2 separate regions of the Homo sapiens genome follow, and region 2 is linked to region 1. Evidence: fine-mapped QTL for protein levels in blood plasma. Region 1 holds a variant in brackets. A gene starts in the other region. All regions are shown on their reverse strands.

Region 1 (8,336 bases):
CCTCCCAAAGTGCTGGGATTACAGGCAGGAACCACCTGGTTTTTTAGAAACAATTTTCTTTTCCCTTGATTTTTATCAATTTCATTATTGTCCCTATATGTAGTTTTCTTTGTATTTATCATGTTCGTATAATTTTTTGACCTGCCTTTGAGTTTGATAATCCTTTCTTTTGTTACTCTCTCTAGTGAACTATTCATTTTGGGTATTGTATTTTTCAGTTTTAGAATTTCAGAACTAGGCATGGTGGCACGTGCTTGTAGTCCCTACTACTCAGGAGTGTTTCTTGAGCTCAGGAGTTTGAGACTAAAGTGGATGATATAACAACACCCTGTCTCTTTAAGTAGAAAAAAAAATTGCATTTCTTGTATTCTGTTTTTTAGAGTTTCCATTTGTCTGCCAAAATTCTCCATCTTTTTATTCATTTTTTTCTACCTTTACCTGTAAATTATTTTCGATTATATGTCTATTTATATAATCTTTGTTGTTTCAAAGTCTTTGCTAATTCTAACATATGAGTCATCTGTGAGTCTGCTTCTATTGCTTTTTTTCCTTTTGATTACAGGTCACATTTTTCTGCTTCTTCATGTGTCTCATTTTTAAAATTGTATGCAAACACTAGATAAAAGCAGTAGAGACTAGGGTGGGCCATTTTTCAACTAATCAGGAGTTCAGTTAGGTTGGGGCTGTTTTGACACTTTAGTTGGTTTGCATCCCCCTCAGTTTCAAATGTCTTGAGGCTGGGATCAGGCTCCTTTCTCCAGCAAAAGTGTGGAATATTAGCACTGTGAGACTTGAGAGCTCTCTCTGCTGTCCAGGCCAGCCCCTGGCTCCCTGTGCTGCTGTGGGTCCAGCAGAAGTCCCATGGGAGGGAATGGTGGCAGCAGAGGACTCACTGTGTGTGTGTGTGTGTGTGTGTGTGTGTGTGTGTGTGTGTGTGTGTGTGTGTGTGGCTTTTCCAGATTCCAAATTGTCTTGCAGCTCGCATGCAACCATTGAAAGTTCAAGTTCAGCTGGTTTCTCCCCATCACAGCATTTCACTGCATATGGCGGGCTTACTCCTGCAGGTCCTTGTGTCCAGAGATTTGGTACATATCCACAGGCATGAAAGCAGCCACTAACCTCCGTGCAACTAGACAGGGACAGAGCCACTTTAGAATTCAGTTTTAGATGCTCCATACCTACTGCTATGTGATGTTTTAAGTTTGTCAGGTGTTTTCTTATTGTGCAGTTGTTGCGGGAGTATTTTGTGACCCTCTGCATCCTAACTGGAGGTGGAGCCCTCTGACATTCCCATGCAGTGGCGTTTCTTCCTCCTTTCTGGCTACTCTGGAGGGAAGCCCTTCCATGCCCAGACCAGCCTTTATACGTTTCATTTCCTCTCTTGATGTTGCCAGGGCTTTTTATTCTTCACAGGATGTGAGTTACCCCATATATTCTGATCAGTAATTAGATTTTTGATTTAAATTTTCTATCTTTTTTTTTTTAAAGACTGGGTCTCGCTCTGTCACCCAGGTTGGAGTGCAATGGTGCAATCATGGCTCACTGCAGCCTCGACCTCCCTGGGCTCAGGTGATTTTCCCACCTCTGTCTCCCAAGTAGGTGGGACTACAAATGCACACCACCATGCCTGGCTGATTTTTGTATTTTTTGTAGATACAGGGTTTCGTTATGTTGCCCAGGCTGGTCTCAAACTCCTGGGTGCAAGTGATCCACCTGCCTTGGCCTCCCAAAGTGCTGGGATTACAGGTGTGAGCCACCACACCTGGACTTTTTTGTCTTCTTCTCTCTCAAAAAACCGATGCCCACTACTTAGGTCGTGAGGAGTTTGGGGTTTATTCTTCCAGATAATGAAGCACAAGGCTTTCATGAGTATGTGTGTGTGTGTTGGTGGGGAGGTGTAGGGAGTGTTGGGAGTTGGGGGAAGTAAAAAACTGACTAGTGTTACAACAAAGGCCTGTATCCTATTATCCTCAAATGAACACATATCACACCTTCTCTGTCACACCCTCTATTAGTCCATTTTCAGGCTGCTGATAAAGACATACCCAAGACTGGGCAATTTACAAAAGAAAGAGGTTTAATTGGACTTACAGTTCCACATGGCTGGGGAAGCCTCACAATCATGGCAGAAGGCAAGGAGGAGCAAGTCGTGTCTTACATGGATGGCAGCAGGCAAAGAGAGCTACTGTAGGCAAACCCCCATTTTTTTTTTTTGAGACGAAGTTTCACTCTTGTTGCCCAAGCTGGAGTGCAATGGCATCATCTTGGCACACTGTAACCTCTGTCTCCCAGGTTCAAGCGATTCTCCTGTCTCAGCCTCCTGAGTAGTGGGATTACAGGCACAAGCCACCATGCCCAGCTAATTTTTTGTATTTTTAGTAGAAACAGGGTTTCACCACGTTAGCCAGGCTGGTCTCGAACTCCTGACCTCAGGTGATCTGCCCGCCTCGGCCTCCCAAAGTGCTGGGATTACAGGTGTAAGCCACCACGCCCAGCCCAAACTCCCATTTTTTAAAACCATCAGATCTCATGAGACTCATTCACTATCACAAGAAAAGCGTAGGAAAGACCTGCCCCCATAATTCAATCACCTCCCACCAGGTTCCTCCCACAACATGTGGGAATTGTGGGAGTTATAATTCAAGATGAGATTTGGGTGGGGACACAGAGCCAAACCATATCATTCCACCCCTGGCCCCTCCCAAATCTCATGTTCTCACATTTCAAAACAAATCATGCCTTCCCAGCAGTCCCCCAAAGTCTCAACTCATTTCAGCATTAACTCAAAAGTCCACAGTCCAAAGTCTCATCCGAGACAAGGCAAGTCTCTTCTGCCTATGAGCCTGTAAAATCAAAAGCAAGTTAGTTACTTCCTAGATATAATGAGGGTACAGGCATTGGGTAAATACAGCCATTCTAAATGGGAGAAATTGGCCAAAACAAAGAGGCTACAGGCCCCATGCAAGTCCGAAATCTAGTGGGGCAGTCAAATCTTAAAGCTTCAAAATGATCTACTTTGACTCCATGTCTGATATCCAGGTCATGCTGATGCAAGAGGTAGGTTCCCATGGTTTTGGGCAGCTCCACCCATGTGGCTTTGCAGGGTACAGGCTCCCTCCCAGCTGCTTTCATGGGCTGGCGATCAGTGTCTGTGGCTTTTCCAGGTGAACAGTGCAAGCTGGATCTACCATTCCGGGGTCTGGAGGACAGTAGACCTCTTCTCACAGCTCCACTAGGCGGTTCCCCAATAGGGACTCTGTGTGGGACCTCTGTCCTTACATTTCCCTTCCACACTGCCCTAGCAGAGGTTCTCCATGAGAGCCCAGCCTCTGCAGCAAACTTCTGCCTGGGCATCCAGGCATTTCCATACATCCTCCGAAATTTAGGCGGAAGTTCCCAAACTCCAATTCTTGACTTCTGTGTACTCACAGGCTCAACACCATGTGGAAGCTGCCAAGGCTTGGGGCTTGCACCCTCTGAAGCCACAGCCTGAGTTGTACATTGGCCCCTTTCAGCCATGGCTGGAGTGGCTGGGACACAGGCCACCAAGTCCCTAGGCTGCACACAGCACAG[G/A]GACTCTGGGCCCAACCCATGAAACCATTTTCTCCTGGGCCTCTGGGCTTGCGATGGGGGGCTGCTGTGAAGGCCTCTGACATGTCCTGGAGACATATTCCCCATTGTCTTGGGGATTAACATTTGGCTCCTCATTACTTATGCAAATTTCTGAAGTCGGCTTGAATTTCTCCTTAGAAAATGGGGTTTTCTTTTCTATCACATTGTCAGGCTGAAAACTTTTTGAACTTTTATGCTCTGCTTCCCTTATAAAACTGAATGCTCTTAACAGCACCCAAGTCACATCTTGAATGCTTTGCTGCTTAGAAATTTATTTTGCCAGATACCCTAAGTCACCTCTCTCGAGTTCAAAGTTCCACAAATCTCTACAGAAGGGGCAAAATGTTGCCAGTCTCTTTTTGGCGACATAAGAGTCACCTTTGGTCCAGTTCCCAAGAAGCTCCTCATCTCCATCTGAGATCACCTCAGCCAGGACCTTATTGTCCATATCACTATCAGGCTTTTTGGTCAAGGCCATTCAACAAATCTCTAGGAAGTTCCAAACTTTCCCACATTTTCCTGTCTTCTTCTGAGTCCTCCAAACTGTTCCAAGCTCTGCCTGTTACCCAGTTCCAAAGTTGCTTCCACATTTTTGGGTATCTTTTCAGCAACACCCCACTCTACTGGTACCAATTTACTGTATTAGTCCATTTTCAGCTGCTGAAAAGACATACTGAAGACTGGGCAATTTACAAAAGAAAGAGGTTTAATTGGACTTACAGTTCCACATGGCTGAGGAGGCCTCACAATCATGGTGGAAGGCAAGGAGGAGCAAATCACGTCTTACATGGATGGCAGCAGGCAAAGAGAGCTTGTGCAGGCAAACTGCCTTTTTTTTTTTTTTTGAGATGGAGTCTTGCTCTGTCGCCCAGGCTGGAGTGCAGTGGCATGATCTCAGCTCACTGCAAGCTCTGCCTCCCAGGTTCATGCCATTCTGCTGCCTCAGCCTCCCCAGTAACTGGGACTACAGGTGTCAACCACCACACTTGGCTAATTTTTTGTATTTTTAGTAGAGACGGGGTTTCACCGTGTTAGCCAGGATGGTCTTGATCTCCTGACCTCATGATCCTCCCGCCTCAGCCTCCCAAAGTTCTAGGATTACAGGCATGAGCCACTGCACCCAGCCCAAACTCCCATTTTTAAAACCATCAAATCTCTTGAGATTCATTCACTATCATGAGAACAGCACAGGAAAGACCTGCCCCCATAATTCAGTCACCTCCCACCAGGTTCCTTCCACAACACATGGGAATTGCGGGAGTTAAAATTCAAGATGAGATTTGGGTGGGGACACAGAGCCAAACTATATCACACCCACAACTTCCCACATCTTTCAATGTATTCCCATATTCTCCACCCCCTCATCCCATTAACTTCACATCCCAGCCTCAAATGGCCTCCTCCTCTTCCCTACATTCCCCCTACAGATCCACATTGGCCTCTCCCATACTCACCCTATACATTTCAAGTGCACTTCTCAGTGACCCCAGGGGCTGTGCCTCTCATGGCCTTACCCTGTCCAGCTGGGTCTTCAGAGGCCGAGATCAGGCAGAAAGGGGCCATGCTTGTGCAGTGGCCACCTTCATCCATCTGATTGTGGCCTTGAGACCCCAGGGACAGAGGAAGACAGGAGAGCACTTGGACCCATTTGAGCCTCAGATGGAGTCCAGGCTGGTCCTCAGGCCCTCATGGGGTTCCTTGGGGACTGTGTTAGGCATGAGTCAGCAATTTAACTCTCCTCTCCAAAGGTAATCATTGGTAATAGTTTGGTATATATACCTTTTTTCTTCTTTATATTCATTTACAACATATAATGTGTATCATGTAATAACTTCTGGCATAAATTATTCAATTTTATGTGTATAATTATGTTCCTAGTTTTGTTTGCATAGTGGGATCAAAAGGAACTTTAGTTTTTTACTTATAAATACATCTTTATATATTTCCTCATTAGTAATATAGATCAAATTCTTATTTTTAATAGTTATGTAGTATTTTATAGTATGAATGAACTATGCATCATTAAATTAATCCCCTATTGATTATTTAAGTTGGCTATATAAGTTTTTTCTTTTCTTTTTTTTTTTTTTTTGAGATGGAGTCTTGCTCTCTTGCCCAGCCTGGAGTGCAGTGGCATGATCCTGGCTCACTGCAAACTCCACCTCCTGGGTGCAAGCGATTCTCCTGTCTCAGCCTCCTGAGTAGCTGGGATTACAGGTGACAGCCACCACACCCAGCTAATTTTTGTAATTTTAGTAGGGACAAGGTTTTGCCATGTTGGCCAGGCTGGTCTCGAACTCCTGACCTCAGTTGATCTGCCTGCCTCGGCCTCCCAAAGTGCTGGGATTACAGGCCTGAGCCACTGCGCCTGGCCAAGTTTTTTCAATTAAATGTTATTAGAAATGACTGGCTTTTTATAAACCTTACAGCAATGGGCCAGTATTTCTGGCATCTTGCCTTTGAAGTCAGGGCTTTGGCCATTTCTGGCAGAAAAGAATGGGCAGCGCTTTTGTCTTTCCCTTGGAGGGGGCTCACTTGTTAGGAGCCATCTGGTGCCTGAGTCACAGGTGCCCTTATGACATCACAGGCCTTTCTTCCTCCACCCTTCCTGCCTATGCTATGGCTGGATGAACACAGATGTGAGGGGATTTGAACCATCTACAATCAATCCATATGTGACCAATGGTAAGAGAAAGCCAGACACACCAGGCTTGTTAGGGATGTCCCCATAGATCTCTCAGGGTGAAGGGACCCCCTGACACTGAAGACTCTAAGAAGCCCTGGAAGCTGGGGATGTGTGCCATATTGAATGGAGAGGGAGGGACCGCAGCCTCACTCTTGCCTTTCCCCTAATGCTGATTGCAGGAGGAGAAGCAGCCCCAAAAGACGAAGGAACCCTCAAAAGAAGATGAGCCTCAGCAGAAGGAGATGCCAACCCATTTGTCCTTAGGAGCAGAGTCAAAGGCAGAGGTAGGAGGAGCCCTGACTTGGATGTCATTGATCCCATGTCCTAGTGCTAGTAGCTAGTGTCTTTTGCATGGTGCTGTTATAAGTGAAGTTTCTGTGCCGCAAAAGAAATAGCACTCAAATATAAAATTTTCTTTTTAATTCTCAGCAAGGCAAGGTACTTCTATAGAAGGGTGCGCCCTTACAGATGGAGCAATGGTGAGTGCACACTTGGACAAGGGAGGGGAAGGGGTTCTTATCCCTGATGCACGTGGCCCCTGCTGCTGTGTCATTCCCCTATTGGCTAGGGTTAGACCACACAGGCTAAACTAATTCTGATTGGCTAATTTAAAGAGAGTGATGGGGTGAGTGGTTTGGTGGGAAAAATGGTTACCGCGGAGCAGGAAATCGGAATGAGTCAGGGTGGAGACTGAGCAGGTAATTGGAATGAGTCAGGGTGGAGCCGGTAATCGGAATGAGTCAGGGGGGAGTAGGTAATCAGAATGAGTCAGGGCGGAGCAGGTAATTGAAAAAGGTTGCTTTACAAGGAAGTTAAGTTTAAAAGTAGAAGGCAAAGAATTGAACATATTGACATACTGATTCTTTGAAGAGAAATTTAGAACTCATACCTAACAACTTCTCCTCTTGCATTTCCTTACAGCTCTTTCTCTTTAAACTTCTTTAACATGTCTTGGCTTAGATGTTCTGCTTGATTTTCCAAAAGAAGAAGCTTCTCTGGATAAGGTGGAGAATAGTTAAGGGAGGTTTTAGTAAGTGCTGTTTTTATGAGCCTCTTTGCACCAACCCACGGACGCATGGTGTGACACAGCACCCAACAAGAATAAATACACCCATTGCGGCTGCCAGGGAAGTGAGAATTGAGGCTATAATTCTTTTCCATTTACTGAACCACTTTTCTAGCCATCCTGTAAAGGGCTCATTTAACCCTGAGTTGTTGGCTAACTCATTGGACAGGGCAGTCAGACCTTGCAATGCCTTTGTTATACTTCCATCAGGGGCAGTGTTGTTTGGGATGAAGGTACAACATTGAGTTTTAATCATGAGGCAAACTCCTCCTCTTTCTGCTATTATCATGTCTAAGCCTATCCTATTTTCCCAAGCCATCCGGCTAGTAGCCCCTAATTGCTCAGCTATTCCTTTAACACCATCTCTAGTGTAGTTAATAAATCGCTGTTGGTTGTAGCATATGTAGTTTATTCAATCTATATTTTTATTAATTGTCTCTCAACAAAATATTGACTCAAATCCTGCAGCTATTTGATTTTAGGCTTTAAATTGATCTGGTATTCCCTGCTAGACTCCAATTGCATTTAAATAGATGTGAGAGTCAAAAGACCCATAAGGGGCTTCTCTCACTTTACGATGTCTTATTTTTCCTTCCTCTGGTTGATGAAATGCCAGGGTGAAAGGGATAGCCAATTGGACTAAAACACAAGTGCCACTTCAGATATTCATCAGAGCGTCCAGTAAAGGTCCACCACAATACCACCACACATCCCCTCGGGGATGAACAAGGGCTGACTGATTGATAAGCTCTTGAAAATTCTTAAGCTCACTGCATCCGTTCAGGTCTCCAAGGAATGCTAAGTTTCCTCCCTGTCGTGAGAGACATGAAGTGAACTTAGTATTGGGAGATGGAAGCTGGATGACCCTCGGGGGCCGACCCACAGGGTGCCAGACTTCAGAATATAGCAGAGAGAAAGAGCATGGCACGACTTGTTACTCCAGGCTGTAGAATCCTGGAAAAGAGCTACCAT
Region 2 (8,336 bases), not on the chromosome of region 1:
CCAAAGAGCTTCCCTAATATTTACCTCCCTCTCAACTCATTACGATGTGGCTTCTGCCCACCCTTCCCTTCCACTAAAACTGCCCTCTCTAAGGTTGCCTGTAACCCAGTTGCCAAAACCAATCTTACTTGACTTTCTGCAGCTTTTAATTCAATTCACTGTCCTCTCCTTGCCTTCCTGGGATTCCAGGACATAACTCCCCGGGTCTCCTACTTCGCTGACTGATCTTTCTATTTCTGCTGGCTCCTCTGTCTTCACCCATACTTTAAACATTATCATTTTCAGAGCTAATACTACTCCCATATGGCATCCTTATAAGAAGTTGTGAAAGGGGCCAGGCGTGGTGGCTCATGCCTTTAATTCCAGCACTTTGGGAGGCCGAGGTGGGCAGATCACGAGGTCAGGGGTTCAAGACCGGCCTGGCCAACATGGTGAAACCCCGTCTCTCCTAAAAATACAAAAATTAGCCGGGTATGGTGGTGCGTGCCTGTAATCCCAGCTACTCAGGATGCTGAGGCAGGCAAATTGCTTGAACCCAGGAGGTGGAGGTTGCAGTGAGCCGAGATTATGCCACTGCACCCCAGCCTGGGTGACAGAGTGAGACTCATCTCAAAAAAAAAAAAAAAGTAGTGAAAGGTACATCATACTCTGTGCACAGCCTGGGCCAGGGTGCATGGCTTGGCAAGCAGAGCCTGGACTGCATTTTAGTCCCTACTCACCACACTCAGCCTGGTGCCCTTGTGCCATGAACACCCTGTGCAACTGCACATTGCAGCCCAGGGCACTATCTGTGGTCTTCATCTCTTTATTGCTCTATCCTCTTTCCCTCTGTAACCCTGCTGACTTTCATTGTTCCACCTCGAACCTATGTGTCTCATCTAATCTCTAGACATCTTTTCATCTACGTCCTGAACTTCTCTTCCTGGGTGTCCTGTGGGGCATCCTAATTTTGCTATGGCCCAAACTCAGTTCAGATCTGCACACTTGCAAATATGCAAATATGCCTATTTTTCTGTATGCCCTCTCTTGGTTAATGACACCACCTTCCATCTTCTTATTCCGCTGAAAACTTCAAGATTATCAATGCCTCTTCCCTTTCCGCAATGTAAGGCTTTTGTCCTCTCCCAAGTTCACTACTGGAAGAACCTTCTAACCAGTTTCCCTATCTCCAGAGCCCCTCCCCTCCAAATTACTCTCCCCACTGCCACCAGGTTTCTTTTTTTACACAGACTTGAGCATATTTTTCCTTTGTTTCAAAACCCATTTTGTCTTCTAATTAACCATAAGATAAAGTCCAGATGCTCAGGCATTGAACATAAAACCCTTTATATCTTGGCCCAAACCTACAAAACTTTTCCAGTCCTACACCTTGCCTCTGCTCCCAAAACATGCCTTGCTCTTAGCCACATCCGATTATGATGCACCCTTTCTTGAACATGATTTTATTCACTGCGCCTTCGCTGGTGCCTTGAATGCCCTTCTCCTGTTCTTTGACTTGTAAAAATCTCATCCACTCTTCAAGATCATGCTCTCTTGTCACTTCTATTTTCAGGCACCCTTTGGCCCTAATTGACAGTGCTCTCCTCATTGCTTCTACAGTCTACAGCACTATTGGTATGCTACTACAGATAGTCTAAAAGTTGTTTTGCATCTCTTTCCTACTACATTGAGTTTCTTAACGGCAAGATTAAGCTTTGTTCGTCTCTATGTCATCAGCAGTTTGTCCAGTGCCTAGTACATGTTAGATACTGAATAAAAATTTATGACTTGAATTGGGCAGGATGCTTGAACATCATTTTGTGAAAGGACCAGTGATTTCTTTCTGTATAATTTTCAGCCTCTTCTTTTTCAGATATTGAAAGAACCTCAGAATAGGATGGTTGATGGGCCCACTTAAGATAGTTGCTATGTTATAGCCCCAATTTTTAGCCGAGTCTCTCTAGGGACATAGAAACCGTGCTTTCTCAAATGACTGATTGGTGCCTGAGTATGGATTTTTCCAGATATCAGAGTTCCTTAGAACTGCGATGATTTTCAATCTAAGAAGACCTAGATTCTAGGTTACACACACACACACTCAACCTCATCGTTTTGAATAGCAGATACAGGGTTTCAGTGTTTTTGTTTTACTCTCTGTGGGTTCTATCCCAGCATCTTACTAAGGGCTGAGATTTCAGGGCATGAAACACGGAATCAACAAAAACAAGGTTTTTACAATCTCAAAACTTTGGGAAACTGTTGAGTTATCTTGAAAGCCTAGAGGGGGAGCATCAGTTAGTTTTGTAGAGAACTCGGCGAAACAATATTGATGCATACGGCTAGCCTCTGTCATCCTCCTGAGTTAAACCCAACGGGACATGCTGGACTATACAGGAGCCACTCGTGGACTCCGTGAAGACCAGATGGGTAGTGTTCTTGAAATGAGCAGATGTCTATTTGTAGAACTCTGGTAGTAGCTTTGGAGTGGGTGGGGAAGAGCTTGGTTCCCATTCCCCCTCAAAGACAATTATTTGCTTCTGATGAGAATCCAAGCAACAAGTTGCCATTGAGAATGCAGTGATTGGTCAGCAAACGAAGCCTATAGGAAGAGCCTTCGGGTGCATTCCTTGTGACATATCGACCCGTCCTAAGCCCGACGCTTAATTATGGGACCTCTCAGCTCCTCCCTCCCGCCTCGAGCTCCCTTTTGGCTTCTCACAAGGCTTCCTGGGGACGATTCCCCGATGCTAGAGTACTGGGGGTCTGGGCCCACAGGGAACCCGTCAGCCTCCCTCCTTGGAGCGGGCCTGATCCCGGGAGGGCGCCCGCGCGGCCCGGAGGCGGGAACCTAGGGGGAGAAGGCGCCGGCGCCGCCCTGGCGCGCAGACCATCTGTGCGGTCCTGCGCGGGGGCAGGCGCGGCCTCAGCCCCCGGGCGCTGGCGGACCCAGCGCGTCAGCTAGGCCGCCCCCGTCGGCCCTCCCCCGGGCGGGGCCAGCCCCGACGGCGCTGACTCAGCAACGCGAGGGGGGAGTTTTGTCCCTCCGCGGACCCCGTTTCTCCCAGCCTCAGCCTCCCCGCCGCCGCCGCCGCCGCCGCCGCCGAGCCGGTTTCCTTTTTCCGGCGCTCCGGGTGCGAGAGACAGGTCGGGCCCCCTAGGCAGCGAGCCGCAGCGCAATCCCGGCGCTCGCCCAAGGACCCTGGAAGCTACCGTTACCCCGCCGGGCAGCGTGGGCGCCATGAGCAGCTCGGGTGAGGTGCCGCCGTCCCCCGCCGCGGTCCTCTGGAGGAGCTCCGCGGTCCCCGTGAGGCCCGGCGGCGGGGAAGGCCGGGGGCTGGGACCCTTGGCGATGGCGGGGAGGGAGCTTTCGGGGCAGGCTGGATCGGCCTGGAGGGAGACAGCTCCTTGGAGGAGGATGCCGCTTATGGGTTTCCCCGCTGCAGCGGGCACCCCAGGATGCGCTTACGAAGTTAGATTCGGGACGCGGGAGCCCCAGATCAGCCCTTTCCCCCTCTTTTTGCGTTAAAATCCTGTTTGGTCTCCCAACAGGACTGAATTCGGAGAAGGTAGCTGCTCTGATACAGAAACTGAATTCCGACCCCCAGTTCGTACTTGCCCAGAATGTCGGGACCACCCACGACCTGCTGGACATCTGTCTGAAGCGGGCCACGGTGCAGCGCGCGCAGCATGTGTTCCAGCACGCCGTGCCCCAGGAGGGCAAGCCAATCACCAACCAGAAGAGCTCAGGTGTGGGCTTCCACTTCTCCCATACGTTCCTTGACCTTCCTGACAGCGTCCCATTTTGGTGTCTTATTTAAGAGTGGTCTTAAATTCGTACTGAAAGAACTGGTCGTAAATTCGTAAAGAATGAGGCACAGGTACAGGCAGGTCTAAGAACATTACCCATGTGGTTTGTTTTGCTGTTCTGTGGCTTGTTAGTACATGCGGTTAGAGTACAAAAGTGACATGTCCATGAGTATACGTTTGAGTGTAATTGACTATATTATGTTCCAATGCTGTGTGGTTTGTAGCCCGTGTCTTGGAGATGTATGGTCTTGGTCACAAAACAGAACATGTGAAAATGTTCATATCTTTGGAGGACTCCCCAGAAATGCCCTGAAGGCCCTATACTATGAAATAGAAAAGATACAATGTAATTACATTAAAATGTCATCAGATGTTACTTTTAAATATGCTTCTTGGTTACAACTGAAGCTAATGTGCTGATGGGCTCAGTTCCCACCAGTAGATCAGTTTGTAATACAGAAAAAAGTTCTGTTCTCATGCCTTGCTGGTCAAGAAGTCTCGTTTTGCTATCTGCTTTCTAGCACCACTCTCAGAAAAAACAGGTATAGTGAAAGATTGGATATCCAGCAATCTAAATAAGGAGCACATTCTCACAACAAAATTGTACTAAACGGATTTTTTAAAGTCTTTCTATACTTAAAAACGACCCCCCAGTCTATCTATACGGACAGGAAGCACATCAGTGCTTGTTTAGAGTCGGTTAGAACTCACAAAGCACACATTTAACGTGAGTACATTTTATTGTATGTACATTATACCTGAATAAAGTTGATTTTTTAAATGTTAAGGAAAAAGTCAAGACCTTACAATAATTAATGTTTTGCTTTAGAAGAAAGTGCTTGGAGTGGTGTGGGCTCTCAGGCTACAGATGATCCAGTTAGTAATGTCACAGTGGTCCTACATAGTTTAGATTGCAGTGACCCGTTAGGGAACAGGTCAGGTCTTACACATTTTGCAGTGTCACTTTTACATACAAAAGATCCAAATAGCATGTGAGTTGTGTAGTTTATTTTCATGCAGTTTTCACATCACCAGTGCATCCAGATCCCCTCTACTAGAAATATATAGCATATAGAAGAGAGGTGACATACAGGTAAATGTAAGGTAAAGACGAACTAATAGGCACTAGTGACTTTCATAAAACACTATAGTTAACTAGAGTTTTCTTCTTGTTACAAAATTATTTTTGTTTAATGTAGAATATTTGTAAATACCAAGTAAATATTTTTCTTGTATATTTGTCAAGTTTTGTGTGTGTGTGTGTGTTTAATAGTGTTTAATATGCATTGATACCTTATACATTGTTATGTAAGCTACCTATCTTTTTCACTTACCAATATATTATAAACATATTTTCATATTAGTAAAAAGGTTATACCCAATACAAGTCAAAGTTTTTCCCTCAGAATTTTCCCTCAGAAAAGAGATAATTTCCCTGTATTTAAGACCTTAAAAGACTTTTCTAATGGCGCTCTCAGTTAATTTATTTTGAAGTAGAGTACAATTTGGAGAAGGCATTACTCTGAAAAATGGATTCTTTATTTGATACGTAAAGAGTGTTTTTGTGTTAAAGATATTAAACCTTTGCATATATATTGCTAATAATAATTACCACCTTTCTTGTTTTGTTTTTAATCTTTCTGCTCTTTCTGATTTACTCTTTCTGAATTGTCCAGATCGTGTCATGAGTTCATTGGTGGGAAATACAGTTGGAGCAGTGCAGTCTATGTGAACCCTCATAATTTCTTGATGTGCTTTCTTGTTTCAGGGCGATGCTGGATCTTTTCTTGTCTGAATGTTATGAGGCTTCCATTCATGAAAAAGTTAAATATTGAAGAATTTGAGTTTAGCCAATCTTACCTGTTTTTTTGGGACAAGGTATGGGACAGATCTGGCAAGATTCTTTTTGTATTGATATCAGCCTTGGTAGGGACTGCCTCTTCTTTTGTAGCTTTTCCAGTTATAGCCTGCCCTTTCATAATAGGTGAGACACCTTTTATTCTGACTTCCAGAGTATCAAAAGTTGACTCTTTCAAAGGCAGAACTGTTTTTGGTTGGTAGGTGGCCATTTTTTTGCAATGAAATAAGTTTACTGACTCATCTTACTGCTTGCTTGTCTATTTAAAATTTTAAATTTTATATTCAATATTCAATTCAATATATCTCCCTTTTTAACATCTTTTTAGGTTATTTGTTCTTTTCTAGGACCTAATTTCCCTCTCAAGAACTTGTCTGAAAAACAGTAAATAATTTTATTTGATTGTTTATTTGTTTATTTATTTTTTTGAGACAGTCTCACCCTGCCACCCGGGCTAGAGGGCTGTGGCACAGTCTCGGCTCACTGTAACCTCTGCCTCCTGGGTTCAAGCCATCCTCTCAACTCAGCCTCCCAAGTAGCTGGAATCACAGGCACATGCCACCATGCCCAGCTAATTTTTGTATTTTTAGTAGAGACAGGGCATTTCACCGTGTTGGTCAGACTGGTCTCGAACTCCTGACCTCAAGTGATCTGCCTGCCTTGGCCTCCCAAAGTGCTGGGATCACAGGTGTGAGCCACCACTCCTGGCCATATTCCATTTCCTAATCTTCAAAATGTATATTACTGACCTGGTTTGGTGGCTCATGCCTGTAATCCCAGCACTTTGGGAGGCTGAGGTGAGAGGATTGCTTGAGCCCAGGAATTTGAGACCAGTCTGGACCTGGCGAAACCCCATCTCTACAAAAAATACAAAAATTAGCCACGCGTGGTGCACACCTGTCCTCCCAGCTACTCAGGAGGCTGAGGTAGGAGGATTGCTTGAGCTCAGGAGGTTGAGGCTGCAGTGAGATTGCACCACTGCACTCCAGCCTAGGCAACAGAGCATGACCCTGTCTAAAAATAAATAAGTAAATAAAATATATATTACATAGGTGTTCATTAAATGTTTTGTTTTAGCATTGGAATGTAAACACTGTACACATATACACAATATATTGGGATACATACACAGGTAAAAGAAGAAACTTCAGATATTCTGATGAAGTCAGATACTGATGTTTATTTACCAATTTTAGTTTAAAAATACTTATTATGGTGCTTGTTTCAGCATCGTAAGTCCCCAAACTGGGGTGATACAGAAAAGATTAGCATGGCCTCTGTACAAGGATGACATGCAAATTCATGAAGGTTTCATGTTTTTAAAAAGAAAAAAAACTATTATGTTGATTCCATGGTAATTCCAAGACTCCCATTCTGTTGATAATGCCAATAAAATTATTGACACTTTTTTCTTTTAATGTTATTTAACTTTCTTTACTCTTTAGGTTGAACGCTGTTATTTCTTCTTGAGTGCTTTTGTGGACACAGCCCAGAGAAAGGAGCCTGAGGATGGGAGGCTGGTGCAGTTTTTGCTTATGAACCCTGCAAATGATGGTGGCCAATGGGATATGCTTGTTAATATTGTTGGTAAAAGTTCTTTCTTTAATGGAACTGAAACTCAGCATGATTAAGTAAGCCTGTAGTTAGGCATGGGCCAATTCTTTGGTGGTTGTGTACAGAGTAGAATTGGTCTCCAAGAAGGATATATAGTTATTTCTAAGGACCTTTAGTTCACATTCTCACCTATAAAGTGCCTTCTTAAATGAGGATTAAGGAGAGAGCTACTGTGAAGGATGGGTTGGAGAAGAAAAGGTAGTATTAAGGAGAACTAATTTTCCATGAAAAAATTGTTTTCTTCTCCATTGATGTAATCAGGAAACACATTAAAACTGTAGCTGTGTTAAAATGTCTTCAAAACATCTTTTGGGGAAATCTCATCATGCTGAGCACTTTACAAAAGTATGATAGATACACTTGAGCTTGACCAAAAGGCTGAGAAGTGACAAAGTATAGTAGATAAAAAGGATAACATAGACAGATAAATATGCACATTAAAAACCTACTTAGGCTGGGTAAGGTGGCTCAGGCATGTAATCCTAGCACTTTGGGAGACCAGGGCAGGAGGATTGCTCAAGCCCAGGAGCTCAGTACCAGCCTGGGTAACATAGTGAGACCCTGTCTCTACAGAAAATAAAACAAATAGCTGCACATGGTATCATGCACCATAGTTGCCGCTACTCAGGAGGTCAAGCCTGGGAGTTCAAGGCTGCAGTGGGCCAGGATCGTGTCACAGCACTCCAGCCTGAGTGACAGAGCAAAACTCTGTCAAAAACAAAAAACAAAAAACAAAAAACCCTGCTTCATAATATGAAGTATAAGATTTTCTGAAGTAAGCCAGCAAAATATCGCCTATTTTTTGAAACAATCACTATTTTTGCCAGGGTTTCTAATTTTTTACCTTCTTTAACACTAGAATTTGTTTTCTTTTAGAAAAATATGGTGTTATCCCTAAGAAATGCTTCCCTGAATCTTATACAACAGAGGCAACCAGAAGGATGAATGATATTCTGAATCACAAGGTACAATATATGAAGCAGGGTGGGATTGAGTTTAGTGTACTTTCCTTCAAACTTATTTTTTAAAAGGGGTTCCTGGGTATCTCTGTATACAGTTTGTGTACAAGATAACTACC

Alleles and levels. Positions count from the first base shown, and alleles are read on the strand shown. Strength reflects both the effect of a copy and how common the allele is.
For the plasma level of the protein whose gene starts at base 3,093 in region 2, A is the high allele of the variant in region 1 and G is the other (moderate association).

The links. PIP is the chance, under the fine-mapping model, that this variant and not a neighbour inherited with it causes the effect. Protein levels are from antibody-based Olink assays in UK Biobank. Linkage for the fine-mapping came from a reference panel and not from the study's own genotypes, which makes the PIPs less certain.
Region 2: BLMH starts here. The variant in region 1 is fine-mapped to the plasma level of the BLMH protein (UK Biobank, PIP 0.94).

Annotation. Positions count from the first base shown.
Region 1 is chr3:51,901,231-51,909,566 of GRCh38, reverse strand. IQCF1 (IQ motif containing F1) reads left to right here and starts at 6,214. Exons shown (of 4, transcript NM_152397.3): 1 at 6,214-6,297; 2 at 6,478-6,582. The coding sequence starts at 6,295. RefSeq lists an enhancer at 6,457-7,656. The variant G/A (reference allele first, on the strand shown) is at 3,574.
Region 2 is chr17:30,286,701-30,295,036 of GRCh38, reverse strand. It overlaps BLMH (bleomycin hydrolase), which reads left to right and starts at 3,093. Exons shown (of 12, transcript NM_000386.4): 1 at 3,093-3,230; 2 at 3,529-3,726; 3 at 5,555-5,664; 4 at 7,090-7,231; 5 at 8,135-8,223. The coding sequence starts at 3,218. LOC124903971 (a long non-coding RNA gene) reads right to left here and starts at 347. Exons shown (of 2, transcript XR_007065700.1): 1 at 1-347. It also overlaps the pseudogene RNU6-1267P. RefSeq lists silencers at 2,683-3,092, 3,293-3,362 and an enhancer at 3,813-3,872.